Homo sapiens: one gene and its partners. The protein of the gene in region 1 interacts with the protein of each later gene in a pairwise test. Each region holds a gene or a part of one and is shown in the gene's direction. Other genes may lie near its edges. The genes, in order: FOXO3, NR1H2, NR1H3 and ESR2.

Region 1 (7,023 bases):
TTTGGGACTAGTCATAAACTTTATGGTTTTATGTCATCGTTTTTTTGTCTTATGGTTTTTTTTTTTTACCCTTCTCTGCTATCTCATTTCTCTTCAACTAAAATCTTAGAAAATACTGTAAATTGAAATTCTCAAGGCTTAATATGCTTAATACAGGGCACACATTTTATGATTCTTTTACCTTAAAATTTTTTACCAATTCCATTTCTGAGTGTCACATGACAACTAATCCTTGACGACTAAAGGGATATAATTTTGTTAGAGTTTTTATAAGATGATCTTCATCAAAAGATGCAGCCATGCAGGAACTTTCAAATCTTTGATGATGGAGAAGGCCCTTTGAAACTGGAGCTGGTTTTATATTTTGATTATGACTAATAGGCAACCTTTTTTTGTGTGTGCTTGTGGTTTAGTGGAAGAAGAGGGAAAAGGGAGAGATCAGGAGCTAATTGTGACCCATTTCCAAGTGTCCAAGTTTAGGAGTTGATTCTTGTCATGATTAGTCATTTTGGAAGCACGCATGTGCATTTAAACCACACTACTTTCATTCTGAGTAATGTAAGAGGATTTTTAACTTCCAAAAATGTCTAGAATTCAGGTTAACGTCTCCTAGTCATGTGTGCATAAAGGGCACGGTATGCAGGGCCTTACTTCTTTTCAGGCTATTTGGGCCATTGCATTATGAGACCTTGTAACCAAAATTATCACCCTAACATCATAAAATGAAAGAATTAGAAAAGAGGACTTAGAGATCAGAATCTAAATCAGTGGTTCTCAGCCCTGGTTGCATGTTTGAATTACCTGGGAACTTCTGAAAAATACAAATACCCAGAGAATTTGATATAATTTGGCTTGTGTGTGGCTTAGCATTGATGGTTTTGTGTTTTGTTTTTTTTTTTCAAGTTTCTTAGGTGATTCTAATGTATAGTTAGGATGAAGTTTTCTGATCTAGTTCAACCCTCTTATTTTACTGGTGAAAAACCTGATTTTTGGAAAAGCTAATGACTTTCTTAAGATCACACAGCTAGTTAGTAGAGAGGTAATTAGTAGCCACAGTTCTAGAGGTTTTTGTTTTCCATTTTCTTCTTTAAATTGATCTTTTTTAAAAGGTCATTTGCTAGGTAATGGATAGTCTCACATAAGTAGCGCTTGCTTTCCTGAAAGGCTTATTTGCCTCTCAATCTAAAAACATCTTGCTTATTATTTCAGCATCAAAAGGATGGGCAAATGTAGATGGAGGCTGAGTGAGTGTATCATGTTTGCATAGCTGTCCAGTGCCTGTCAGTAGGGGTACTTAGGAACTATGAAGTGATAAAAGAGGTAAGAAGGATAGCATTTTAACAAAAAGAGGAAGCCCTTGGTTACTTACATTTGTCAGATACTGTGTCAGGGAGAAGGATGATGACTATCTCACAGGTTCCCTTACCTCGGGCATTAAAGTAGAAATGAACAATCAGATGTGGTTAAGAGGGGAAAAGGTTACATTTCCTTTAATTCAGATTAAGCTTGCACTGCACCCATGATTGAACAAGTGAGTTCTCTCAGTTCCTCTTGTCTTGGGGAGACCTCTAAGGACGCCAGGGCTTACCTGGTAAGGCCTATCTATCACTTATTTCGTTATACACAGCACACATCTGCTTTTCCCATGGGTCAGGGTGTAATCAAATTAGGCAGACTTGAGTTTCTGTAGTGGTTCCCATAATTTCACAAGTGTGGGGGATACTGTGTTAAGATTTCTGCTGCTGCTGCTGCTGCAGAAGATAATTCTTCAAGAGTCCGAGTCTTCTTTCATGTAAGAATGTGTATTGTTATGGCTTCTTGCCAAGATAAAAAGATGAGGGCTGTCCTGTCACATAATGCTTATTTGTGTCCTCACTGTTTCTGTTCTTTAGATTAATACATCCAGTTCCTTTTCAACACACTGTATTAGGAAAATGTTATTTTAACTGCAACTCTGTTTTAAATTTTTTTTTAATTTGAAAATGACTAAGTCATAATCATTCCACATTGGCTCATAATTTTGACCTCAGTCACCTTTTGGAGTAACTCACCAAAAGGCCAGTTATGGTCGTGTGTGAAGAATCTGTCTGCTTGGCCCGTGTTGCCAAAATGTCGTTTTGTAATTTCCTTTGGCAATAGTGTCTTCGTCAGTGATTCTCAACTAATATACTTCCTCTTTCTACAGCCCCAGTACACTAGAGGGACTGTTTTTCCTCTTTTTCAAAGCTGTGTCATTGACCTCTGAAGTGAAGAAATTGGCCCTTTTAGACTTTGATCTGTGAGTCCCATGTAACAGAGACTCTTTAAAAAAGAAGCTAAGTGTGTGTTTTGATATGTTTATCTCCTTCTTAGAAAATGAAATGAAACTACAGCAGACTTATTTTTAGGAGATTTTAGGAGTGTTCTATTTTAAGAAAATGACACCATACAAGAACATCTTTTAGTTAAACTTCTTAGTACTCTGCTTGTGATTCTTACTTAAAACCTGCAAGATACTTTTATTTGGAAAATTAATGAAGAGGCCTTGTCTCACTAATAAGTCATTTAATTTGGTCTGGCAAAAGTTTACCATCCATTCAAAGATCTTCATGAAAATGCAAAGATAAGGCTGTTTAGGCTTGAGCCCAGGAGTTCAAGACCAGCTTGGGCACATAGCAAAACCCCATCTTATTTTTTTTTTAAAGACTGTTTAGGCCTGTGCATTCTGGCAGGTTGCCCCACTTACCCAGAGCAGGTGCATCAGATTCCAGATTCCCAGGGCTGGAGAGAATATGGAATTTATTTTGTTTGTATACCCACTTATTTTGCCTATAGGGACAGACTTGACCCTATTCTCAACTCCTCATTTCTCTCCTTTTCCTGCATCACAAATTGAGGGGTCCTGAAGAGCCACTTTACCTTTTTGGTGCTATAAAAGGAGCTGGGGATCATAAATGCAAAGACGAGTTGATATCAGTGGATGTTACAGCTGGTATACAGTAAGTGAATGAAAGATTGGAAAGAGAAAACCCTTTTTACCCATTTGCATCACATCCCATTTCATGTATTCAACAAATGTTTATCAAAGGCATGCTGCTTGCAGAGCATTTGCCAGGACTTAGGGATATAGTGGTAGCAGAAGGCAGATAAAGTTCCAGTTCACTCACAGGAGTTCATATTCTGATGGAGGAGACAGAAAATAAGCTATAGCATATCTGTGCTTTGTGAATTTGTCATTGCTGCCTATTCCCGTTGCCTTTTTTTTACATCTGTATTTCTGCTTTCTCTAGTACTTCAACTCTGCTAAGAAGTTGCTGGGAAGTGGCAAATTTGATGTGGGGCATGGCTTGGAGCTAGCCTTTAACTCTCTGCAGATCATTTTGAGCTTGCTTTGGAGATGCAAAACCACCGTACCATGGCTCCTGTGGATTGGGTCTGTTTGGGAGAAGCTTTGGTTTTCCAAGCTCCACCTGGATTAGATAGAGCACATCTTTGGCCCTGGACTGATCTGGGATCCCCAGTTCTGTCTCCCAGGGCCTGATGTAGATCTGGCCTTCCTCTGGAGTGGATGTGGAGCCTTGATGCCACTGACTCATCTGTATTACTTGTTGCCTAAAACTCAGAACTAAAAGAGATCTTAAAGATCATCTAACTACCTTATTTTGCAGGTGAGAAACATGCTAGGACTATGTGAGTGACTGGGTTCAGGGTTCCACAGCTAGTAGGGGTGGAGTAACGGGTGTGTCCAGTCAGTGCAGTGGTTCATGCCTATAATTTTAACACTTTGGGAGGCCAAGGCAGGAGGATTGCCTGAGGCCAGGAGTTTGAGACCAGCCTGGGCAACAAAGTGAGACCTCGTCTCTACCAGAAAAAAAGAAAACTAGGCCAGGTGCGGTGGCTCATGCCTGTAATCCCAGCACTTTGGGAGGCCCAGGTGGGTGGATCACCTGAGGTCAGGAGTTCGAGACCAGCCTTACCAACATGGTGAAACCCTGTCTCTACTAAAAGTACAAAAAGCTAGCCGGGCATCGTGGCGCATGCCTGTAATCCCAGCTACTAGGGAGGCTGAGGCAGGAGAATTGCTTGAACCTGGGAGGCGGAGGTTGCAGTGAGCCAAGATTGTGCCGTTGCACTCCAGCCTGGGTAACAAGAGCGAAACTCCATCTCAAAAAAAAAAAAAATTAGCTCTGTTGTGGTGGTGCATGCCTGTAGTCCCAGCTGCTTGAGAGGCTGAGGCAGGAGGATCCCTTAATCCCAGGAGTTTGAGACTGCAGTGAGCACGACTGCACCACTGCACTCCAGCCTGGATGACAGAGTGAGACCCTCTCTCTCTCTTTTTTTTTTTTTTTTAAAGCGTGTGTTCATACCACTGTACTGTAGTGTCTACTGCCTACCATTGTGGTTTCACAGCTGTTCATCTCAGTGCTGTTTGCCTCAAGTTCTTCAAGCTCTTCACTTGCTGTCTTCTGCTTCTCCTCCCCTCTTCTAGGCTAGCTCGCACTGGAGTCGCTGTGTTTCTCCTTTTGTGTTCTCCATCAGCACTCTCTACTTACCTTGCTAAATGCCTTTTCTTTCAACGCCACCTTACCCTGCCCACCCCATGGCTGCTACCTGTTTATTTTGTCATTTTGCTAAGACTGTTGAATATTTTTAAGCACAGTATAAGAGGCTTTAAATTAGGGAATGTGTCTGCCAGACAAATAAGTGTTTCTAATATTTGGAGCTGCTTTTTGGATTTTATAATCAACCCATATGGATAGCCTTAGTTCTGGGGCTGTGACTCTGAAAGGGGCTGATGTGACTCAGGAGTGAGCTGGTGTCATGAGTGGAGTCTTTTGGATACTTGCAGCTCTGAAGGTGGCATCAGCTTTAGACCTCCTAGCATCGATGTTGATGTGATGTGGTGTAAATGTGAGATGATGCTGTGCTATCTGGGGTTTCTTGCAGTGCCTTGTTACCCAATGCATAAGTCTCTGAAAACTCCATAAGTGTCCATCACTACTTACCACAGAAACTGAAGGAAGCCTGATCTTGGGATGACCTTGTTGCATTAAGAGAAAAAGGAAATGAAGTTTGCCATCTGTATGTAAACCCGCTATTTGTATCATCAACATGCAGTGTCGAGAAAGTCACCATAGAATTGTTTTGCCTAAAGTTTATTTTACTCACTTTTAGGAACAAAGCTGTTATGTAAAGCCTTAGTTGTTTGTAATGTTCTGCATTTTGGGGCAGAAGTCCCAAATGTACTTCAAGTTTTCTGTCCATGGATTGGGAAATAGAAGTCATGTATGAAAGGAGAGGAGATAGCAGACAGTCTTTGAGATGAACTATTTCAAGGACCAGTCTGCAGTTCTTCCAAGTTAGAGTTCTGAATATGTGGTTAGGCTAGTGATGATGATAGAACACCCCAGTTCTGACTGCATCATTGCCCAGACAGACCCAGTATCTTTCACCATTTTATTCCTGACCAAACAACGTTCATTTCCCAGTATCTTAGTCTCTCCTAAAGGAAAAAGAACTACGGTAGCTGGCATCCATAGAGTACTGTGATGTACCACTCTTGGTAAAACGGAAATGTCTGATTGGAGTGTGTTTCAAGCCAGGCTTTTCTATAATTCGCTTGTTCCACTTTTCACTCCTGAGTTTTTGAGGTTTTAATCTTGAGACTTTTTCTCTGCAGTGCCTCAGTTACTACTATGGAATAACATAATAAGCGAAGAGGATGACTTCTCTGCTGGGCTGTGGTTCTTCTAGTAATTCCGCTACTCCTGGGTCATTGCCTGGGGTGAGGAGGCCAGGTTATCTTCTGGAGGCTCACCACACCTTGGTGTCCAGATGTGCCCTAGGACTGCAGTGGAGAGGTGAGCACAGAGTAAGGAAAGCATGTGGCACATGTGTAGGGGGCAAGGCTGGAGCAGGAAGTAAACTCTCCCCCAAACAAACAAATAAACAAACAGCATACATTACCTTCCTTCTGGAGTGAACCTATAGTAAACCCAACAGAGATGTGTTTGGCAGTTTTCAGTACGTGTTTAGGAATTTGTTTGAAAACCATTAGGGGGTGGGGTGGGGTGGAAGAATCCACATCATGTTTTCCCTTGCGTGGTTTTTTTTTTTTTTTTTTTTTTTTTTTTTTGAGACAGAATCTCGCTCTGTCGCCTAGGCTGGAGTGCAGTGGCGTGATCTTGGCTCACTGCAAGCTCCGCCTCCTGGGTTCATGCCATTCTCCTGCCTCAGCCTCCCAAGTAGCTGGGACTGCAGGCGTTCGCCACCACTCCCAGCTAATTTTTTGTATTTTTATTAGAGACGGGGCTTCACTGTGTTAGCCAGGATGGTCTTGATCTGCTGACCTCATGATCTGCCTGCCTCGGCCTCCCAAAGTGCTGGGATTACAGGCATGAGCCATTGCACCCGGCTCCCTTGTGTATTTTTATTTTAAATTTTTTATTTGAGACAAGGCCTTGCTCTGTCACCTAGGCTGGAGTGCGGTGGCACAATCATAGCTCTCCACAGCTTCAAACTCCTGGCTCTCTCTGTAGAGAGCTATGATCCTCCTGCCTCAGCTGCCCTAGTAGCTGGGACTACTAATGAGCGCCACGACACCCAGCTAATTTTATGTTTTTTTTGTAGAGATATGAGGTCTCACTTTGTTGCCAGGTTGGTCTCAAACTCCTGGGTTCAAGCGATCCTCTTACTTGGGCCTCCTAAAGTGCTGGGATTATAAACATGAGCCCCTGCAACCAGCCTTCCTTGTATTTCAGATGTCTAGTGAAGTTAGTTAAGTTAGCCCTTGAAGGTATTGAGAATTTACTTTAAATTCAGAGCCAGCAGAGGGAGTACACAAGTCTTTAAGCTGATGTCAAGTATTTTTTTCTCCACACAGCTAAAATAATACCTTGATTATTTTTTAAAGAACTCTGATATATAGTGTTTCCATGTAAGTTTATTGTCATCATTAGAAAAGGAAAATTTAGGAGAGGGGGTGTGGAGATTAAAAACTTAAAGCAAGTGTTTTAAAGGAAACCCTGGTCTTCTAAGACCCAT
Region 2 (7,619 bases), on another chromosome or scaffold:
GCCTGCCCAACATGGTGAAACCCCGTCTCTACTAAAAACACAAAAATTAGCCGGGCATGGTGGTGCGCACCCGTGATCCCAGCTACTCAGGAGGCTGAGGCAGGAGAATAACTTGAACCCGGGAGGCAGAAGTTGCAGTGAACCAAGATTGGGCCACTGCACTCTAGCCTGGGTGACAAGAGCAAAACTCAAAGAAAAAAGGAAGAACGATTTATCCTATTTACCAGTAGGTCAACCGAGACTGAGTGCAATGTGACTCGTCCCAAAAGTGTTGTAATTCCTCTTCAGCCTATTTCAGGACTCTTGCACTTTTCTAACAGTGGAAACTTAGAACTACTTTAACAGCCACAAGAATCAATACAGGCTGGATGAGAGGCTCATGCCTGTAATCCCGGCACCTTGGGAGGCCAAGGTGGGCAGATCGCCTGAGTCCATGAGTTCAAGAACAGCCTAGGCAACGTGGCGAAACCCCATCTCTAACAAAAATGTAAAAACTTAGCTGGGTGTGGTGGCTCATGCCTGCGGTCCCACATACTCTGGAGGCTGAGGTGGGAGGATCACCTGAGCCCAGGAGGTCAGGGCTGCAATAAGCCAAGATGGCACCACTGCACTCCAGCCTGGGCGACAGAGTGAGATCTTATCTTAAAAAAATAAATAAATAAATAAATAAATATAAATACAGTTCCACCATATCAGGCACCTCATTTGAAACCCACCCTGTTTATGCTTTTACCTCATTTAGTCATAAGAGTAAGGCAACAAGGTCATACTCTTGATCCCGGTGGGCTAGGGGAAGTCCCCATATGCTGGTGTGGGACCTCCACCCCAGCCAATGTCCAGGCTCTTGACACCATCTCGGGAAGGAACTTGAGGACAAGTGGGAAAATACTGAAAGTACAAAGATGTATTGCAAAGTGAAAAGTACACACTCAACAAAGAGGAGTACAGGTGGACTCCAGAGAGAGTCTCCTGCAGGGGGGGTTTGGGGCTGCTACCTTAATGGGTTTCTCTCTTTTTGTTTTGAGACAGTCTTGCTCTGTCCCCAGGCTGGAGTGCAGTGGCACGATCTTGGCTCACTGCAACCTCCGCCTCACGGGTTCCAGCGATTCTCCTGCCTCAGTCTCCTGAGTAGCTGGGACTACAGGTATGTACTATGGATTTCTTTAATCAAGGAGTGGAATATTCATGAAGATTCCTAGAAAAAGGAGATTTTTGAGAACTGTGGTGCCACCCACTTTTACACCAAATATGGGTGTTCCTGTAACCGTCCTGGTGCTGGTGGGTGTGTGTTTATGTTAATGAGCATATAACGAGGTCCTAGGTGAGACCTAGGTCATATGTAGGGCCTTGTTGGGTCCAATGTGTCTTAGCCAGGTTGGTCCACACCTAGGGTTTTCAAGAGTCTTATCAGCCCCCACCTGCTGCAACTATTTCAACAGTTTCCTTTTGCTAGTCATGTGAAACTGCTGCCTGGAATTTTCTATTCTCCTGTGACTACCCTGTGTTATTCCTGTCTCGCTTTTTTTTTTTTTTTTTTTTTTTGAGATAGAGTTTCAGTCTGTCGGTAGGCTGGAGTGCAGTGGCGCGATCTCGGCTCACTGCAACCTCTGACTCCTTGGTTCAAGAGATTCTCCTGCCTCAGCCTCCCAAGTAGTTGGGATTACAGGCACGTGCCACCACGCCCAGCTAATTTTTGTATTTTTAGTTGAGATGGGGTTTCACCATGTTGGCCAGGATGGTCTCCATCTCCTGACATCGTGATCTGCCTGCCTCAGCCTTCCAAAATGCTGGGATTACTGGCATGAACCACTGTGCCTAGCCTCCTGTCTCACTCTTTTTAATTTTTTTATTTTTATTTATTTGTTTATTTATTTATTTATTTTGAGACGGAGTCTTACTCTGTTGCCAGGCTGGAGTGCAGTGGCGCGTTCTCGGCTCACTGCAACCTCCGCCTCCTGGGTTCAAGTGATTCTTCTGTCTCAGCCTCCCAAGTAGCTGGGATTACAGGCACGTACCACCACGCCTGGCTATTTTTTTTGTATTTTTTTTAGTAGAGATGGGGTTTCATGGTGTTGGTCAGGCTGGTCTTGAACTCCTGACCTTGTGATCCACCTGCCTTGGCCTCCCAAAGTGCTGGGATTACAGGCGTGAGCCACCGTGCCCTGCCTTTATTTTTTTATTTTTGAGATGCAGTTTTGCTCCTGCTGCCCAGGGTGGAATGCAATGGCAAGATCTTGGCTCACCACAACCTCTGTCTCCCGGGTTCAATTCTCCTGCCTCAGCCTCCTGAGTAGCTGGGATTACAGGTGCCCGCCACCATGCCCGGCTAATTTTATATTTTTAGTAGAGACCAGGTTTCAGCAAGTTGGTCAGGCTAGTCTCGAACTCCTGATCTCAGGTGATCCACCTGCCTTGGCCTCCCAAAGTGCTGGGATTACAGGCATGAGCCACCATGCCCGGCTTTCTCACTCCTGTTTGCAATTTACAGGCAAGGAAACTGAGGCACGGGGAGGTTAAGGAACTGGGCTCAGTGTTACACAGGAAGGAAGTGACAGAGACACCAGGTTCTGCCATTTCCAACGCTCATGTTAATCACTTGTTTCGCTTCTAACATCCCTAGGTGGAAAATTCCACAATCTCAAACGATGGGCCTGAGTAGACATAATAAGTTACAGAAGAGCATGGATCACATAGTCCCATTTCTTTTTTATAAAGGCATACACATATGTCAGAGGCATTCCAACCACAGCGATTCTGTCTTGAATAGGAGCTTGGTAAAATAAGGCTGAGACCTACTGGGCTGCGTTCCCAGGAGGTTAAGGCATTCTTAGTCACAGGATGAGATAGGATAGGAGGTTGGCACAAGATACGGGTCACAAAGAGCTTGCTGATAAAACAGCATATGCAGTAAAGAAGTCAGCCAGATCCCAGCAAAACCAAGATGGCGATGAGAGTGACCTCTAGCCGTCCTCATGGCTCATTATACACTAATTATAACGCATTAGCATGCTAAAAGTCACACCCACCAGCACGATGACAGCTTACAAATGCCATGGCAACGTCAGGAAGTTCCCCTATATGGTCTAAACGGGGGAGGAACCCTCAATTCTGAGAATTGCCTACCCTTTTCCTGGAAAACTCATGAATAATCCACCCGTTGTTTAGTATATAATCAAGAAATAACTATAAGTATAATCACAGTGAACAGCCCAAGCCGCTGCTCTACCTGGAGTAGCCATTCTTTTATTCCTTTATTTTTATTGCATTTTATTTTTGAGACGGAGTTTCGCTCTTGTTACCCAGACTGGAGTGCAATGGCGCAATCTCGGCTCACCGCAACCTCGGCTCACCGCAACCTCCGCCTCCTGGGTTCAAGCGATTCTCCTGCCTCAGCCTCTCCCGAGTAGCTGGGATTACAGGCGCCCGCCACCATGCCTGGCTAATTTTGTATTTTTAGTAGAGACGGAGTTTCTCCATGTTGGTCAGGCTGATCTCAAACTCCCGACCTCAGGTGATCTGCCCACCTCGGCCTCCCAAAGTGCTGGGATTACAGGCGTGAGCCACCGCGCCCGGTCCGAGACTGAGCTTTTTTAATTCTTCCAATCACCAAGTTATTGAAACCATTTTTGCAAAATTTTAACAATGAGAAAATTCTGACATCTCAAATCTGGCCAGGCACAGCGGCTCACGCCTGTAATCCCAACACTCTGGAAGGCCGAGGTAGGTGGATTGCCTGAGGTCAGGAGTTCGATACCAGCCTGGCAAACATGGTGAAACCCCATCTCTACTAAAAATAGAAAAATTAGCCGGCCGTGGTGGTGGGCACCTGTAATCCCAGCTACAAGGGAGGCTGAGGCAGGAGAATCGCTTGAACCCAGGAGGCGGAAGTTGCAGTTAGCTGAGATCGCGGCACTGCACTCCAGCCTGGGCAACAGAGTGAGACTCCATCTCAAAAAAAAAAAAGTAAAAATAAGCCCGGTGCCGCAGCTCACGCCTGTAATCCCAGCACTTTGGGAGGCCGAGGCAGGCGGATCATTTGAAGTCAGGAGTTCGAGACCAGCCTCGCCAACATGGCGAAACCCTGTCTCTACTAAAAATACAAAAAAATGAGCCGGGCGTGGTGGCACATGCCTGTAATCCCAGTTACTTGGGAGGGTGAGGCAAGAGAATCTCTTGAACCCAGGACGCAGAGGCTGGAGTGAGCTGAGATCACACCACTGCACTCCAGTCTGGGGTGACAGAGTGAGACCTCTCCAAATAAATAAATAAAAATAAATAAAACTAACAAGCAGCACGACTCCAAAATCAGAAAACTTGTAACGACCAAAAAAGTGCAAACGTGCCTTAAATCAGTCATGTGCGACAAGCAGCTATAGCTAGGGTTTGGCCGCAGGCTCAGAGAAGCGCATGAATGAGCTAAAGCCACAAAGCGCGGGGCTGGAGGTTTGGCTCCCAAGAAGCGAGGAAATGGGTTCGGAACTCTTCTGCCAAGTCCCAGTAGATCTACCCGGTAAACTTCCGGTGAGTTTCCAACTTCCGTGCGGGGCAGCAGCTTCGGCTGGTCCTAAGCGGACCGGAAGTTCGTCAAGTTTCACGCTCCGCCCCTCTTCCGGACGTGACGCAAGGGCGGGGTTGCCGGAAGAAGTGGCGAAGTTACTTTTGAGGGTATTTGAGTAGCGGCGGTGTGTCAGGGGCTAAAGAGGAGGACGAAGAAAAGCAGAGCAAGGGAACCCAGGTAGGTGCACCCGAGAGTGGGGAGACGCAGGAGGAGCCCCGAACCCGGGGCTTCTCGGCGCTCCCCGCGTACTCCGCTCTGCCCCCTTCTCTCCTTCCATTTCCTCCCCTCGGTAATTCGCGCCTCCCGCGGCTGTTTCCAGGGCAACAGGAGTAGTTCACTCCGCGAGAGGCCGTCCACGAGACCCCCGCGCGCAGCCATGAGCCCCGCCCCCCGCTGTTGCTTGGAGAGGGGCGGGACCTGGAGAGAGGTGCGAGGGCGGAGCATGAATGGAGGAGGCGGGGCGGGGCATGATGGGAGGTGATGGGGCGGGACCTGCAGCGCGGTGCGGGGGCGGGGCATGAAGGGAGGAGGCGGGGCTGGGGGCGGGGCATGATGGGAGGAGATGTGGCGGGGCCTGGAGCGAGGTTGTGGGGGTGCAGTAGGAAGGGAGGAGGCGGGGCGGGGGCGGGGCATGATGGGAGGGGATGGGGACCTGGAGCGAGGTTGTGGGGGTGAGGCTTGGAGGGAGGGATGCATATGGGGCGGGGCAAGGTGTTGGGAGGCCCATGATGGGGGCTTTAGGGGCTGAACCTGGAAGGTTGAGGGCGGAGCATAGTAGGAGGAGGTGGGGTCAGAATGAGAAATAGGGATGCTTGGGGCAGAAGTGAGGTAGAGTCTTAAGAAGAGGAGGTGGGGGGAAACTACATGGCATGGAGGCCGTGAAGGCAGAGCATGATTAAAGGAGAATGGGCCCTACCTAGAAAAAGCAGGTGGATTGGACCTGAGGGGGCGGGGCCTACAGCAGGGGCGGGGCTTAAGACCAAGCTGAAGGCTGGCGTGGAACAGAAGGGGGCAGGTCTTGTTAGAAGGATGGGGAGGGTTTGTAGGCTGGCAGGAACCAGGGTTGTGGCTGAGAGTAGGGTCTTTGGAGAGATGGAAAAAAAAGGGAAAGCCCTGTCAGGACCTGTAACTGACCTAACCTAACCCTTCTTAGCCCCACAAGGCTCTCAATCCCCTGTATTCTACAGGCTGCTCCGTGACCCCACCATGTCCTCTCCTACCACGAGTTCCCTGGATACCCCCCTGCCTGGTGAGTGACTCTCTTCCCCACCCAGCCCTTATCACACACGAGCAGAAGCTCACTGTACCTCTCCCGGATTCCACCCTCTTCCAGGAAATGGCCCCCCTCAGCCTGGCGCCCCTTCTTCTTCACCCACTGTAAAGGAGGAGGGTCCGGAGCCGTGGCCCGGGGGTCCGGACCCTGATGTCCCAGGCACTGATGAGGCCAGCTCAGCCTGCAGCACAGACTGGGGTGAGACAGGGCCCTGGAGTTGATGTGGGGGCTTGGGGAGGGGTTTAGGAAGGGAGAAAGAAATAGAAATGGGAATGGGAGGCCCTGATCTTTGCTTTTTGTTCTTGCTTTCTCCTTAACATATACATCTTTCTAAATTGCAATTTCCCTGAATGTGAGCAGCAACTCCTCTCTCCCTCCATCCTCTGGCTCTTTGCCTGGGGATCTCCTGTGGGCCCATCTCTCTGGTTCCTGTTTCTCCTTGTGGCTTTCTCATGGCCTCTACCTACCCACCCCAGTCATCCCAGATCCCGAAGAGGAACCAGAGCGCAAGCGAAAGAAGGGCCCAGCCCCGAAGATGCTGGGCCACGAGCTTTGCCGTGTCTGTGGGGACAAGGCCTCCGGCTTCCACTACAACGTGCTCAGCTGCGAAGGCTGCAAGGGCTTCTTCCGGCGCAGTGTGGTCCGTGGTGGGGCCAGGCGCTATGCCTGCCGGGGTGGCGGAACCTGCCAGATGGACGCTTTCATGCGGCGCAAGTGCCAGCAGTGCCGGCTGCGCAAGTGCAAGGAGGCAGGGATGAGGGAGCAGTGTGAGTGCAGCGGGAGGGGGCGGTGCCGGCCTGGCCCCCCGCCTAGCCCTGGGGTTCTGCTGAGGCCTGCATCCCCCTACAGGCGTCCTTTCTGAAGAACAGATCCGGAAGAAGAAGATTCGGAAACAGCAGCAGGAGTCACAGTCACAGTCGCAGTCACCTGTGGGGCCGCAGGGCAGCAGCAGCTCAGCCTCTGGGCCTGGGGCTTCCCCTGGTGGATCTGAGGCAGGCAGCCAGGGCTCCGGGGAAGGCGAGGGTGTCCAGCTAACAGCGGCTCAAGAACTAATGATCCAGCAGTTGGTGGCGGCCCAACTGCAGTGCAACAAACGCTCCTTCTCCGACCAGCCCAAAGTCACGGTACTGCCCCCTCCACAACCTTGAGTGTGACGGTCCCAATGGGGTAGAGCCAGCTGGGCCATCACCCAGGGTGTGGGAGAATGAGGCTCCAGAGGGCAGGGGCTTTGGGAAGAGGATCCCCCAGGGTGCAGGCTTGGCCTCAAGGTGGCCACCCAGACTTAGGCTCACAAAGACCTGGGAGTGACCCTGGTCTCCTGTGTCCCAGCCCTGGCCCCTGGGCGCAGACCCCCAGTCCCGAGATGCCCGCCAGCAACGCTTTGCCCACTTCACGGAGCTGGCCATCATCTCAGTCCAGGAGATCGTGGACTTCGCTAAGCAAGTGCCTGGTTTCCTGCAGCTGGGCCGGGAGGACCAGATCGCCCTCCTGAAGGCATCCACTATCGAGGTAATGGTCCATCTGCCCACAAGGAACCCCAGAGATAGCTCCAGGACAGATGCTGGGAGCAGAGTTAAGGAAGACCAGTGCTTGCCGTTGTAGGATGACATTCCACGGCGAATAGAGTCTTCTATGAGCCAAGGAGAGAAAGGAAAAAGGGTCTGAGGCTGAGAAAATTGAGGATCAGGCTAGAGGCGCTATTGCAGAGAAAAGTTGCCAAAAAGGCTTTTCAGAGGAGTTAGCATTTGAATCAAAGTAGGGATAACATATAAGTATTGAGCACGTGCT
Region 3 (7,023 bases), on another chromosome or scaffold:
CTGAGGCAGGAGAATCACTTGAACACGGGAGGTGGAGGTTGCAGTGTGCCAAGATCATGCCACTGCACTCCAGCCTGAGCAAGTGTGAGACTCTGTTTCAAAAAAAAAAAATCTTCTTGCCTTTACCCAGTGCTGTCTGCTTTTCTGGAGCCCCAAACCACCCCCTTTGCCCCATCCTTCCCTCCTGTCTTTCCCCCACCCCCTTGCCCCATCCTTTCCCCATCTGCTCCCTTCCTCATATTTGGCCCTGTCCTTAGGTGTCCTGTCAGAAGAACAGATCCGCCTGAAGAAACTGAAGCGGCAAGAGGAGGAACAGGCTCATGCCACATCCTTGCCCCCCAGGGCTTCCTCACCCCCCCAAATCCTGCCCCAGCTCAGCCCGGAACAACTGGGCATGATCGAGAAGCTCGTCGCTGCCCAGCAACAGTGTAACCGGCGCTCCTTTTCTGACCGGCTTCGAGTCACGGTACTTGACACACCTGGGGAGAGGCGGCTGCGCCCAGATCACCAGTGGGCTTCTTGATGTCCGACTCAAAGCGCTTTGCCTTTTCCCTCCTGGGTAGCCTTGGCCCATGGCACCAGATCCCCATAGCCGGGAGGCCCGTCAGCAGCGCTTTGCCCACTTCACTGAGCTGGCCATCGTCTCTGTGCAGGAGATAGTTGACTTTGCTAAACAGCTACCCGGCTTCCTGCAGCTCAGCCGGGAGGACCAGATTGCCCTGCTGAAGACCTCTGCGATCGAGGTGGCTGGAGAAGGGCAAGGGATGAAGGGAGAAGCAGAGTGGGATTATCTGTGGGAGGGGCCTCCAGACATCGAGCTGGGAGAGCCAAATCTGCTGGGAAGCAGGGATGAGGAGAATCGGCCTCCCTGGAAGAGGCCATGCTCCAAGACCAGCCCTCCTAGTCCCCGTTTGAGGTTTGCTGCTTGTGTGCAGGTGATGCTTCTGGAGACATCTCGGAGGTACAACCCTGGGAGTGAGAGTATCACCTTCCTCAAGGATTTCAGTTATAACCGGGAAGACTTTGCCAAAGCAGGTGAGAACTGAGATCACACAGGGATTGGGGTTGGGTGGACAGATGCTTCTTTTTTTATTTTTTATTTTTAAAAATTGAGGGCCAGGCGCGGTGGCTCATGCCTGTAATCCCAGCACTTTGGGAGGCCGAGGTGGGCAGATCACCAGGTCAGTAGATCAAGACCATTCTGGCTAACACGGTGAAACCCTGTCTCTACTGAAAATACAAAAAATTAGTCAGGCATGGTGGCACGCGCCTGTAGCCCCAGCTACTTGGGAGATCGAGGCAGGAGAATCACTTGAATCTGGGAGGCAGAGGTTGTAGTGAGCCAAGATCGCACCACTGCACTCCAGCCTGGGCAACAACAACAACAACAACAAAAATTGAGATAGAGTCTTACTATGTTGCCCAGGTTGGTCCCAAACTCCTGGCCTCAAGTGATCCTCCTGCCTCTGACTCCCAAAGTGCTGGGATTACAGGCGTGAGCCACCCACCATGCCCGGCCAAGTACTTTTTTTTTGTTTCATTTTTTTTTTTAGACAGAGTTTGCTCTGTCACCCAAGCAGGAGTGCAGTGGCGTGATCTTGGCTCACTACAACCTCCGCCTCCCGGGTTCAAGCAATTCTCCTGCTTCAGCTTCTCAAGTAGCTGGGATTAGGTGCACCACCATGCCCAGCTAATTTTTGTACTTTTAGTAGAGACAGGGTTTTACCATGTTGACCAGGCTGGTCTTGAACTCCTGACCTTAAGTGATCCATGTGCCTCAGCCTCCCAAAATGCTGGGATTACAGGCATGAGCCACTGAACCTGGCCAGGACTGGTGCTTTTTGTCAGAGGCCCATAGTGACTACAGAGCCACAGGCCCAATGTTTGGGTGGCTGGTAAGGGAAGGCTCCCTTGTTTTTTGAAGATAGAAAATTGGAATGCTGATAGGCTTCTCTCAGCTGCTCCAGATAGACCCCTGTCCTCTGTTGCTTTAGGTCAGTGGTTTTCAAACTGTATTCCAAGGAACCTGAGAGATATATGGAATGGCACCTTGGAGGAGAAACAGGGAGGCACAGGAATGTCCTTCATCTTTACTTTAGCCAAACAAGAAGCTCCATTTAAATCTGCATTATATATTGCACTGCTACATAGTATTTTGCTTGCAGATTTTACAGCTTGAAAAAAAAGTTTGAAACTCAGTGCACTCAACTTTTTAGTAGTCAAAAAGTGAACAAATCTTCCTCACATGTGCTCTTTGGGGATCATGGGGGCTGATTTCCCCTACTTTTTTTTTTTTTTTGAGATAAGTTCTTGCTCTGTCACGCAGGCTGAAGTGCAGTGGCATGAACGTGGCTCACTGCAGCCTCAACCACCTGGGCTCCAGTAATCCTCCTGCCTCAGCCCCCAAGTAGGTGGGACTACAGGCATGCACCACCATGCCAGGCTAATTTTTATATTTTTTTGTAGAGAGTGGGTTTCGCCATGTTGCCCAGGCTGGTCTCAAAATGGTCTCGAACTCCTGAGCTCAAGTGATCCACCCACCTCGGCCTCCCAATGTGCTGGGATTACAGGCATGAGCCACCACACACAGCCTCCCCTACTCTTTTTCTTTTTTTTTCTTTTCTTTTTTTTTTTTTTTGAGATGGATTCTCACTCTGTTGCCAGGCTGGAGTGCAGTGACGCGATCTTGGCTCACTGCAACTTCTGCCTCCCGGATTCAAACGATTCCCCTGCCTCAGCCTCCTGAGTAGCTGGGACTACAGGCGCGCGCCACTACGCTCAGCTAACTTTTGTATTTTTAGTAGAGATGGGGTTTCACTGTTTTGCCCAGGCTGGTCTTGAACTCCTGAGCTCAGGCAATCCGCCCGCCTTGGCCTCCCAAAGTCCTGGGATTACAGCCATGAGCCACTTGTCCAGGCCCCTCCCCTACTCTTTTTCAATTGCACTTTCTGACGAACCAGAACCATGGCATGGCAAACATGCCCAGAGAGGATGTACAATAAGAGCGAATGCTTCCATCTCCATCCTATATCTGAAGTATTTTCTCCAAAAATTAGTTCATTCTGCGGCTCTCTATCTGATGCTCGCTTGGGAGCTACGCAGAAGGGGTTTCTTCATATTCAACTATTGATAATGTTTGTATCATGAGAACTGGCCTGGGAAAGGACGGGAGGCTGAGGGAGTTTTGGAGGGACTGGAATTGAGCTTCAGCAGGAAACCAAGTAGCTTAACGACTGGATGAGTGGGGCTGTAAAATATGGCTGATGCCCTGACTCCACTCTCAGGGCTGGTAGATCTGTGGCCAGGCCAGTCATCAAGCCTTCCTTGGTTTCTGATAACTCAGGCCAGCTCACGTGCCTCTTGCTCTCCCAACGCAGTCCACCCAGTGAGCTTTCTAGGAAGGCCACTCTTCGCTGTAGGGCATAACAGGGCTATGTTGGCACCTTTTGCCTTCTATAGTAACCGGTGTGCTGCCTGGATGTATTGACACCTAATGGGGTGATTTAATGACTTTATCCAGCTTTAAAGCCCAGCCCTGCTCCCCTCTTCCAAACCACTTTTTCCTCGATGGTTATTATCTCAGACCTTCTTAACCGTGGCTCTCCCCTCCTTCAGAATATCCTCCTTGTGGAACCCTGCCCAGTTCTAAGATCTTTGTATTCCTTTGGCACTTGTAGACTCATGCTATCTGAATCTGCACCTATTCATAGATTTATTTATACAAGCAGTTTTGAAGTAATCATGCTTGCATTTCTTATTTCATGAGTGAGGTCTTGGGGAGAAGGAACAGGAGCTCTGCTTGTCAAGTCTCCTCCCCTCCCTATCCGCTACTATTTACTGCATGCAGTAGATAACTGGTGACATGGACTGAGCACATTTGAGGTGTTCATTCCGTGGGCATCAGCAGACCCTCAGAGGTGCATTAGCTAACTATAGAACCTCCTCTTAATTTCTCTATAAAGGGGGCTGTTTGCCACACTTTGGGGCTCAAAACCTCACCAAGAAATGCTTTAGAAAATGGGGCTTGCCGCCGGGCGTGGTGGCTTACACCTGAAATCCCAGCACTTTGGGAGGCCGAGGCAGGCGGATCACCTGAGGTCAGGAGTTCGAGACCAGCCTGGCCCATATGGCAAAACCCCATCTCTACTGAAAATACAAAAATTAGCTGGGCGTGGTGGTGCACACCTGTGGTCCCAGCTACTCAGGAGGCTGAGGCAGGAGAATTGCTTGAACCAGAAGGCTGAGGTTGCAGTGAGCTGAGATCGCGCCACTGCACTCCAGCCTGGGTGACAGAGCAAGACTCCATCTCAAAAAAAGAAAAAAGAAAAAGAAAATGGGGCCTGCCCATTAAATGGACCAACACACAACACTTGATAAACATCAGGGTGAAAGTACAGGAAGTGACTCACCAAGAAGCCTTGAATGGAAAAGTGTAGCAGATGGTTGCTAAAAGAAATCTGACAAAGCCTGGGGAACTCTGTAGGGTGCAGAGACTTTGACAATGTGTATGAGAGACATTCTCTAGGTATCATTACTTTAGCTCATGTTTTGTTGCATTTTAGTCTTCTCAGCAGGAAGACTGTTTCCAAGAAAAATGTATTATTTATTGACCAGGCGCGGTGGCTCATGCCTGTAATCCCAGTACTTTGGGAGGCCGAGGCAGGCAGATCACGAGGTCAAGAGATCGAGACCATCCTGGCCAACATGGTGAAATCCTGTCTCTACTAAAAATACAAAAATTAGCTGGGCGTGGTGACATGCACCAGTAGTCCCAGCTACTCAAGAGGCTGAGGCAGGAGAATTGCTTGAACCTGGGAGGCAGAGCTTGCAGTGAGCCGAGATCATGCAACTGCACTCTAGTCTGGCAACAGAGCAAGACTCTTTGTCTCAAAAAAAATTTTTTTATTTATTTTACAAACACTTATGTGGTAGTTACCATATATGCCACATATTTATGAGATAGGTACTATTATTATTCCCATTTTACAGATGGGAAAACCAAAGCCCAGAGAGGTTAAATAACTTACACAAGGTCACACTGCCTTGTAAGTGGTAGAGGCAGGACTCAACCCGAGGCAGTCTGGCACCAAAATCCACATCCTCACCCATACTGCAATATTCCCTCGAGGATGTGATACATGAAATGTATCTCTAGTGTTCAAATAAGTAAGGCCAATGCCAGTGAAAAACAAGTCTTTTTTTTTTCTTTGAAACAGGGTCTCGCTCTGTCGCCCAGGCTGAATGCAGTGGTGTGATCAATCATGGCTCAATGCAGCCTCGACCTTCTGGGCTCAAGTGATCCTCCTTGAGTAGCTGGGACTACAGGTGTGAACCACCGTGCCCTGCTGAAAAAGGATTTTTTTTTTTTTTGAGCCAGAATCTTGCTCTGTCGCCCAGGCTGGAGTGCAAGTAGAACAATCTCGGCTCACTGCAACCTCCACCTCCCAGGTTCAAGCAATTCGCCTGCTCAGCCTCCCGAGTAGCTGGGACTACAGGTGCGCCACCATGCCCAGTTAATTTTTGTATTTTTAGTAGAGACCGGGTTTCACTGTGTTGCCCAGGCTGGTCTCAAACTCTTGAGCTCAGGCAATCCGTCTGCCTCGGCCTCCTAAAGTGCTGGGATTATAGGGATAAGCCACCGCATCCAGCCTTTTTTCTTTTTCTTTTTTTTTTTTTGAGATGGAGTTTCGCTCTGTCATCCAGGCTGGAGTGCAGTGGCGTGATCTCGGCTTACTGCAACCTCCGCCTCCCAGATTCAAGCAATTCTCCTGCCTCAGCCTCCTAAGTAGCTGGAATTACAGGAGTGCACCACCACGCCCAGCTAATTTTTGTATTTTCAGTGAGACAGGGTTTTGCCATGTCGGCCAGGCTGGTCTCAAACTCCTGAACTCAGGTGATCCCCCTGCCTCGGCCTCCCAAAATACTGGGATTACAGGCATGAACCGCCGTGCCTTGCTGAAAAACGATTCTTGATAAACAAAAATAAGAGTTGCCTCTATTTCTAGAAATGTGGAGCCCTCAAGAATTTTAATGACAGAATTGGCAGGTGATGGTGTCTGGTGCCTGTAATCCCAGCACTTTGGGAGGGCGAGGCGGGTGGATTGCTTGAGTCCAGGAGTTCGAGACCAGCCTGGGCAACATGGTGAAATCCTGTCACAACTGAAAATATAAGAATTAGCTACTTGTGATGGTATGCACCTGTAGTCCCAGCTACTAGGGAGGCTGAAGTAGGAGGATGGCTTGCACCCGGGAGGTCGAGGCTGCAGTGAGCTGTGATTGTGCCACTGCACTCCAGTCTGGGTGATAGAACAAGACCCTGTCTCAAAGAAAAAAAACAAGAATACCAGAATTATTATTTAATTCAGCACCTCTTGTGTGCCAGACACAGCGCTAAGTGCCCTGCATACTTTGTCATTGAACTATACCAACAATTTTCTGAGAAGGGTTCAGATATGATTCCCATTTCACAGATGAGGCTTATAGAGGGGTTAAGACATTTGCTCAAGGTTACACAGCAAAGCCTTGTAGACCTTTTTTTTTTTTTTGACGGAATCTCGCTCTATCGCCCAGGCTGGAGTGCAGTAGTGCAATCTTGGGTCACTGCAACCTCTGCCTCCCGTGTTCAAGCAATTCTCCTGCCTCAGCCTCCCAAGTAGCTGGGATTACAGGCACCTGCCACCACGCCCGGCTAGTTTTTGTGTTTTTAGTACAGACGGGGTTTCGCCATGTTGGCCAGGCTCTTCTCGAACTCCTGACTTCAGGTGATCCGCCCGCCTCAGCCTCCGAAAGTGCTGGGATTACAGGCGTGAGCCACTGTGCCCGGCCTCAGTAAACTTCTTAGTGAGTTCCTAATAGTTCCCTAAGGTGAGGAGAGAAGAAAGTTCCTGCTGCTCCTGCTGCTTGCGTCAGCCTCCCTTCTTCCTCCCCAGGGCTGCAAGTGGAATTCATCAACCCCATCTTCGAGTTCTCCAGGGCCATGAATGAGCTGCAACTCAATGATGCCGAGTTTGCCTTGCTCATTGC
Region 4 (7,196 bases), on another chromosome or scaffold:
AGATCAATAAAGAATAAGTTACATAAATATGCTCATAGGTGGTCATTCCTAGACAAGAAATTGACAACATTTCATTCAACAGTATCTGGGCTCTACAGGACAGACATGCCTCCATTTATGCAACAAATAAGAACAGCATCTCATGACAGTGGAGAAAACATGGGATGTGCAGGTAGGTAGGTAAAGTTGGGTGGAAACTTTCACCCTACCAAATGCACATGGGTGACTTTATAAAATAAATGTTAGCTCTCTGAGCCTCAGTTTTCCCATCTGTAAAATAGACAGTCCCAGGGAATTTTCAAGGATTAAATGAAATAAAAGTGAATCAACCTATGCAAGCCTGCCTACTGTGGTGTCCAGGCTAGAAAAATGCTCAATAAATATTAGGTTTGTTTTTATTTCTACAAAAGATGTGATCCTAAAGAGCTCTATCCAAATTCAAGTTTCAAATGTCAAATCACATTTTGTGAACTTTATGTTCAGTTGAGATGATCTCTGACATATTAATTAGTAATCCTATCTTTTTCATTCATCACCACCAAAAAAAGGTGTTATTGCACGTTCAATTAATCTTTCCCCTTTATTAATTCCATAAGTGTAGGGTTTTATCTCTCAGATTCTCTTAAAACAGACCAATTTATACCCACATAATATAAATAAGCTTGTTCCTATAACACTCTGGAGCAGATAACTATCCCAGAACCCAAATCCTCCTACTTGGCTTCAAGCTCAGAGAATAAAGCAACAATCCAAAGGCACCCTTTGGCATGACACCCTTCTAGACATCTGTAGCATTCCTCCTTTCCCTCCACTTTTCCTATTAGCTTTTGCTTTCTTGCCTTTTACAGGGTTTTGTTTTGCCTCTTGGTAGTTTCTTTCCTACGGAAAATTCTCCCTCTGATCTTTCCAAGTCAAAGGCTTCAGCAAACATTTGTTGAACGCGTGGATTGTGCTAGGTGGGTGTTATGGACCATGGAGAATGCTAGAGATGTAAGACATGCGCTGTCCAATCGCAGCGCAGGTTGTGTTGACAGGTAAGATGAGGGCTGTGGGGGAGCCAATGTGCACGTTCCACTGGGCTAATGTGCTCTTCACCTTATTTAGGCTCTTGGCTTTGGGATGTGTAAGACTTTGCTAGACAGAGAAGGGGTGGGGTGAGAAGATGAGGAAGGTGCACCTTTTATGGAGAGGCTTTCCTTCCTCTTCACAGCAAACCATACCTGTACTACATTGACTTCCTTTGCTTTCCCAGGTGACATCTAGCTCATGCTGCAAGCTCATCTTGTTAATCATAAATGCTAGTAAGTTAATATTACCCATCATATATAACATGACTTAATTTTAACAATTCAATGCTTTATCCCCAAAAGATGACTTAATGGTGACAATTTCAATCCCCATTGTAGGATATTTTGGAGACAGGCAGTCCTTTCAATGTCATATGTGGGTGCTTCCTTAGGCAGGTCAGGGGTGAGGTGGAAATGAGGCTGGGACCCTGCTCACTTATATAGCAGGCATCGTTCTCAATACCAGGCTTCAGGGGGCTTTTTGGTCTAGCCATTGGTATGAACTGCCTCAAGAATAATCCCTTCATCATTGTGGTCACAATTCAGGTAGAATTGGAATAATCATCCTCTCCACTCTGCATTAAACCAGGCAAAGTTTCCATCTCTGGGTACCATTGTCTTTCTTGATGGACAGGGTGAGTCAGAAGGAAACTTACTCACTCCCATTCATTTTCTGCTTATTATTTCCTGCAGTGAGGTTTCCTTGTATAATAAACAGCTTCTGTGGGTGTTTGAGCTGCTCTGAAAAGAGAACATGCTGTTCCTGTGTGTAGAATGCCTTCTGAAGGAAGCATCACAGTGAACACAGAGCAGAAGCTTGGCACACAGGTGGCAGAAGTTTGTCTGCAGTGTTCTGCATAGAGCAGAGAGTCAAGCCATTTTCATTCTGATTGATTGGAGGCATGGTATGGAGGTAAATGGGTCCTTGGCCTCTCTCCTGGATTCAAGTCCTTCTTAGCCACTGATAGGTCATGTGACCATAGGGAGGTTGTTTAACCTTCCTGAACATTCATTTTCTCAAGTATAAAATGGGGGTAATAGAATTTGCCTTATAGGCTTGCGTATAAAATAAGAATTATTGAGAGAAAGCGGGGCATAAATGTCCAATAAGCGGTAGCTGTCTATGAAGCCACTGTTGTTACTGGGTTCCTTTCTCACTAGGTGGCTTCAGGTAGCTGACAGAAGCTCTGTGAGCCTCAATTTCCTCACTGGAAAAGTGGAGTCAATATCTCACTGAGCTGGTGTGAGGATTAAATGAGATGCTGTGCAGGTGCTTAGCACAGCGTCAGGTATGATGTTAATATTGATAGATGCATTTTCTTCACCCTCACCTATCTTTTTCTGCCTGTTGGCTTATGGTTGAAATTCCTTCATGACGGTTTCCATTTCCAGAGATATCTTGTTAACAAGTATATACCACCAAATGAAGCTGATTTTTTTTTTTTTTTTTTTTTTTGAGACAGAGTCTCGCTCTGTCGCCCAGGCTGGAATGCAGTGGCGCGATCTTGGCTCACTGCAACCTCCGCCTCCCATGTTCAAGCGATTCTCCTGCCTCAGCCTCCTGAGTAGCTGGGATTACTGGCATGTGCCACCACGTCCAGCCAATTTTTGTATTTTTAGTAGAGACGAGGTTTCACCATGTTGGTCAGGCTGGTCTCAAACTCCTGACCTCGTGATCCACCTGCCTCGGCCTCCCAAAGTGCTGAGATTATAGGTGTGAGCCACCATGCCTGGCCATGAAGCTGATTTTTTTAAACCATCATTTAACATTTTCTCCATAAGGTGGCAAGGAGGAAGAGCATATGGGGACTGGGTACTTTGAGAGACCCCAGGACAGGAGACAGGGAGGCTGAGATTGGCATGTTGTCTGCTGCAGTTATTTGCCAGCGACACACTCTTCCCGTCCAAACTAACTTCTCTGCCTCAAGGACAGGGAGACTCTGCCTTTCAACCTGAGAGAAACCAGGACTCTCAGCTTTAATGAAAATTGGACTTAGGGTGGGGCAGTGGAGACTTTTCACAGCTATTGTTTAGCTGATGAAGCAGATGCTTCTCCATCTTTGGAGCCTGTCTTCATTACCTGTGGACCTCATCTTTATCAACCCAGAGCACACTTGCGTCTCTCTATTTTGGCTAAACACCAAACAGCTGAGGCTGGTACTGTAAAACTTTCCCTCCAAATGCCCCCCCTCGTCTTCCTCTATTAGAGATCTGGATCACAACCCTCAAAAACCATGTCCCTTATGCCACCTGAGTAGATGGTTTGATGATTAATTAGGCACAGATGTGACACTGGGGGGTTCTCACAATGGCCTGTGGGTCACATGCTACTTTCCTTTTCATTTTCATCAGCAACAGCTGCCTTAAAGCCAGTTAAGACTGTGGTCCTAGTCTCGCACCCTGGGGCTCCTGCTGGGGTGGGTGAGGGGAACACCCCATTAAGCTGGGGGAACTGGGGCTGCCACCAGGGGGCGCGAGGGGCCTTCGCCCGAGAAGAGGGGTGGGCAGGTGCCTCCAGCGGAGAAGGGCGCCGTGGCCGGAGGCACAGGTCTCCCCGGTGCCACTTCAAGTGAGTTCGAGGAAGTACCTGGGATCTTTGATCTAACGCGAAAGGCCTTCCCAGTGACCTCTTGAGAGCTGAGAACCCACTCCCTCCACCTCTAGTCCACGGCTTTGCCACTCCAGGGCCCGAGGTTACGTTTGCTGCTGGGGATTTGACAAACCCAAAGCCTCTCTGGTTTCACCACTGGCTCCTTAGAATCAGACATCTGTTCTGAATGACACTTATGTGAGTCAGGGGCTGAGGACGTGATCCTCGAAGTGTGGTCCCCAGACTGGCTGTATCAGTGTCGGCATCCCCCAGGACCTGGTTGGAAATGCATATTCTCAGGCCCTACTCCAGACCTCTTAAATCTGAGACTGGGGCTGCGGGGAGCGCCATCTGTGCGCCACTATCCTTGTGGGTGGACCAGGAGTCGGTTCGAGGGTGCTCCCACTTAGAGGTCACGCGCGGCGTCGGGCGTTCCTGAGACCGTCGGGCTCCCTGGCTCGGTCACGTGGGCTCAGGCACTACTCCCCTCTACCCTCCTCTCGGTCTTTAAAAGGAAGAAGGGGCTTATCGTTAAGTCGCTTGTGATCTTTTCAGTTTCTCCAGCTGCTGGCTTTTTGGACACCCACTCCCCCGCCAGGAGGCAGTTGCAAGCGCGGAGGCTGCGAGAAATAACTGCCTCTTGAAACTTGCAGGGCGAAGAGCAGGCGGCGAGCGCTGGGCCGGGGAGGGACCACCCGAGCTGCGACGGGCTCTGGGGCTGCGGGGCAGGGCTGGCGCCCGGAGCCTGAGCTGCAGGAGGTGCGCTCGCTTTCCTCAACAGGTGGCGGCGGGGCGCGCGCCGGGAGACCCCCCCTAATGCGGGAAAAGCACGTGTCCGCATTTTAGAGAAGGCAAGGCCGGTGTGTTTATCTGCAAGGTAAGCGCCCCTTCGCTCGAGGTGTGGTTTAATTGTCTCATTTTGTTTGAAATCCTGCGGTGAGAAACCAGTCGTGTTGAGAACAATAAAAGACCAAAAAACGATCACCAAAACCAACTGTCCTGAAAGCTACTGGAAAGTTGGAAAATGCATGCTTTGATTAAATGTCTTCATTCAAGACACTGGCAAGTTAACTTATTTAGTTTGTGCCGTGAGCTCTGGGTTGATTGTGCTAATATGAATAACTGAAAAACATTTTATTTCCCTATGGTTTTCCTCGATGGACTTCCCCACTATGGGTGAAATGACAATGGAGTTGAATACACTTTCTGATTGAACTTTGAGGGCCTGGGAAGATGTACACGTCTCAGGCAAGATGATAGGGGTTTTAAAATGTATTAATTGGCATTCCTTAGCCATGTCAGCAAGCTGCGTTCCTCCTTTCCTGGGCAGACCAAGCTAAGCTCTAACTGGTCTCCTTTATTTGCTGAAGAGGAGTCCAACAACTGCCCTCTAACACCCTGCGTGTTATTCTTATTGGAAGGACAATATTAAGTCAAGTGAATGTCATTTTTGTGAAAAAACTTTGAGTGGACTTCTATTTAGGAAGATAAGGTTGATTTAATTTTACTCGCTGTTTAAAAAGCAGGATTGTGTTTTGGTGTGGTAGGCAACATTTTGGAGGACAGACTTTGCCTTATTTTGTTATATTTCTAGTATTTACATGGGCATTCCATTAGAAAGTTTTACTTTTGCTCTAAGTTTCGTAACTCGGTGTCTAGTGAGGGGAAACATGTTTGTAATTTAAAAAGTGAACATGTGAAAGGAAAGGCTTTTCTGAGAGTGTTGTAAAACAAATGTAACGTGACTATGAAAAGAACATGATTAACATCTTTGACTCCTATTTTTTCTGAAGAAAATGTATTTTGATATGAGTTCTAGAAGAAGGAAACTATAAGGATCTGTTCATCAACAGGCATTAGAGTATACACCGTAGGATTGCATTTTACGTTCAAGCATTTTTTTAGATGAATTTCTGAAACATTCTTATTTTAAAAGCCATCAGATGCTTGTTAACACTTAAGTCTTGCTCAAGACATAGAAGTTTCTGAAATCAATTAACATGTTTAGGACACATTTCGTAGTGTTCTGAGGGATGTGAATAAATCTAATCACAGTTTACATTTCTTAATGTATTTATAATTCAGAAAAGGTAGAATTTAGTAGTAAATTCAACTCATAACCATATAATTAACATTTAATAGATATTGATATGTTCACTTTTAAGAATAAGAAGGAAATTTTCTATAAGTGTATGTTGAACACATAATAATTCAAAATTCATGTGATAATTTTAGGTGATGCTTTGAGTCGTTTTATAGAATATAAATATGGATAAAATATAAAATACTGAAGGCTGAACTCAAAGTGTTTAATGATAAGTTTTTGATAATACATCTAGAAACCTTGAGAATTGTATGCTTGAACGTTAGATTTCATAATTCAGTGTCTAGCACATTGTTTTATATGCAATAGCACTTTAAAAAAATTAGGCTACAGCAGTATAATTTACATACAGTAAAATTTAGCCTCTGTAAATGTACCTCTATGAATTCTGACAGATGCACAGTCATGTAACCAGCACCGCACACATGACACAGAACAGTTCCATTACCCCAAAAGTCCCCTTTGTACCTCTACCTACCCCACTGCCCCTGAAAATCACTGATCAAAACTACATAATGATTATGTGGTTTTGCTCTTTAGTACGTTTTTACTTAGACATATTTTCCTTTACTTCTTTTGAAAGAAAAACCTGTTTTTCCCTTTTTATAGGATGAGTCAGTTTGTGCTATTTTTAATTCTAGTACCTTGGGATAAATCAAGGCAAAGACAATGCTATTTGCAAATGGGAAACTTGAGACTTGGACTAAGTGTTAAATTCATATAGGGCTAATAGATTTAGTTCTTAGCAGATTTAGATTCTATTGTGGTTTAAGCCTTTGGTTATGGCATATATCATTAGTTATCCTGAATTGAAATACAAGGCCATTAAAAGTTATTTATATCATATTAATAGAATGCATCATTCTTTTATAATCTTTGAATTTTAAAACTTCTTTATTAAAAAAAAAACTACTTTTCATTATACCTGAGATTAAGAAAGCTACCTGAAATTGCATATTATCAAATAGTGAGAAGCAAAACAGGGATTGAAAATGACAAATTGAAGACATTTAAAATGCAGAGTGATTACAATTGCTGAAGGTAAAATATTTATCTTCATAGGGGCTTAGGTCTGTGTCCAACTTATTTGTAGATGTCAGGATTTTTAAATTTCTGTGCTCATGTCTTGAAGTCTAGATTTTCCTGCAGGGTGGAGATGTATAACCTTTTGTAAACTAATATTTTTCACTGTTTAACACAGTATTCAATTCAGTATACAGTTAGGAGCCTGTTATTGGTAGGTACTGCTAACATATATATATATAAAATTGATGTCTTTTTCCTTTTTCCTTTGTTCTATGAAAAACAGCCTGTATTTTAAATATGTAACTTACCTTGCATACCCAGTTACAGTGGTAGTAACTAGGATATGCAGAGTGGCAAGTTTATGAGGAGCTAGCAAACTGGATAGTTGGCCTTCCTAGCTGGAATTATG

The links.
Region 2: the proteins of FOXO3 (region 1) and NR1H2 interact in a two-hybrid assay, tested with the Homo sapiens proteins (one study listed by BioGRID).
Region 3: the proteins of FOXO3 (region 1) and NR1H3 interact in a two-hybrid assay, tested with the Homo sapiens proteins (one study listed by BioGRID).
Region 4: the proteins of FOXO3 (region 1) and ESR2 interact in binary tests that used the Homo sapiens proteins (3 or more experiments, as listed by UniProt).

Annotation. Positions count from the first base shown.
Region 1 is NC_000006.12:108,563,903-108,570,925, forward strand, and holds part of FOXO3 (forkhead box protein O3), read left to right. Parts: intron 1-3,269; exon of another isoform or gene 3,270-3,647; intron 3,648-4,330; exon of another isoform or gene 4,331-5,840; intron 5,841-7,023. UniProt on the Homo sapiens protein: Transcriptional activator that recognizes and binds to the DNA sequence 5'-[AG]TAAA[TC]A-3' and regulates different processes, such as apoptosis and autophagy.
Region 2 is NC_000019.10:50,371,842-50,379,460, forward strand, and holds the start of NR1H2 (oxysterols receptor LXR-beta), read left to right. Parts: upstream 1-4,615; 5' UTR 4,616-4,735; intron 4,736-4,877; 5' UTR 4,878-4,985; intron 4,986-5,745; 5' UTR 5,746-5,764; coding exon 5,765-5,807; intron 5,808-5,891; coding exon 5,892-6,029; intron 6,030-6,307; coding exon 6,308-6,598; intron 6,599-6,680; coding exon 6,681-6,955; intron 6,956-7,160; coding exon 7,161-7,340; intron 7,341-7,619. UniProt on the Homo sapiens protein: Nuclear receptor that exhibits a ligand-dependent transcriptional activation activity. Binds preferentially to double-stranded oligonucleotide direct repeats having the consensus half-site sequence 5'-AGGTCA-3' and 4-nt spacing (DR-4).
Region 3 is NC_000011.10:47,260,984-47,268,006, forward strand, and holds part of NR1H3 (oxysterols receptor LXR-alpha), read left to right. Parts: intron 1-257; coding exon 258-466; intron 467-563; coding exon 564-743; intron 744-935; coding exon 936-1,035; intron 1,036-6,929; coding exon 6,930-7,023. UniProt on the Homo sapiens protein: Nuclear receptor that exhibits a ligand-dependent transcriptional activation activity.
Region 4 is NC_000014.9:64,291,371-64,298,566, reverse strand, and holds the start of ESR2 (estrogen receptor beta), read left to right. Parts: upstream 1-4,195; 5' UTR 4,196-4,534; intron 4,535-7,196.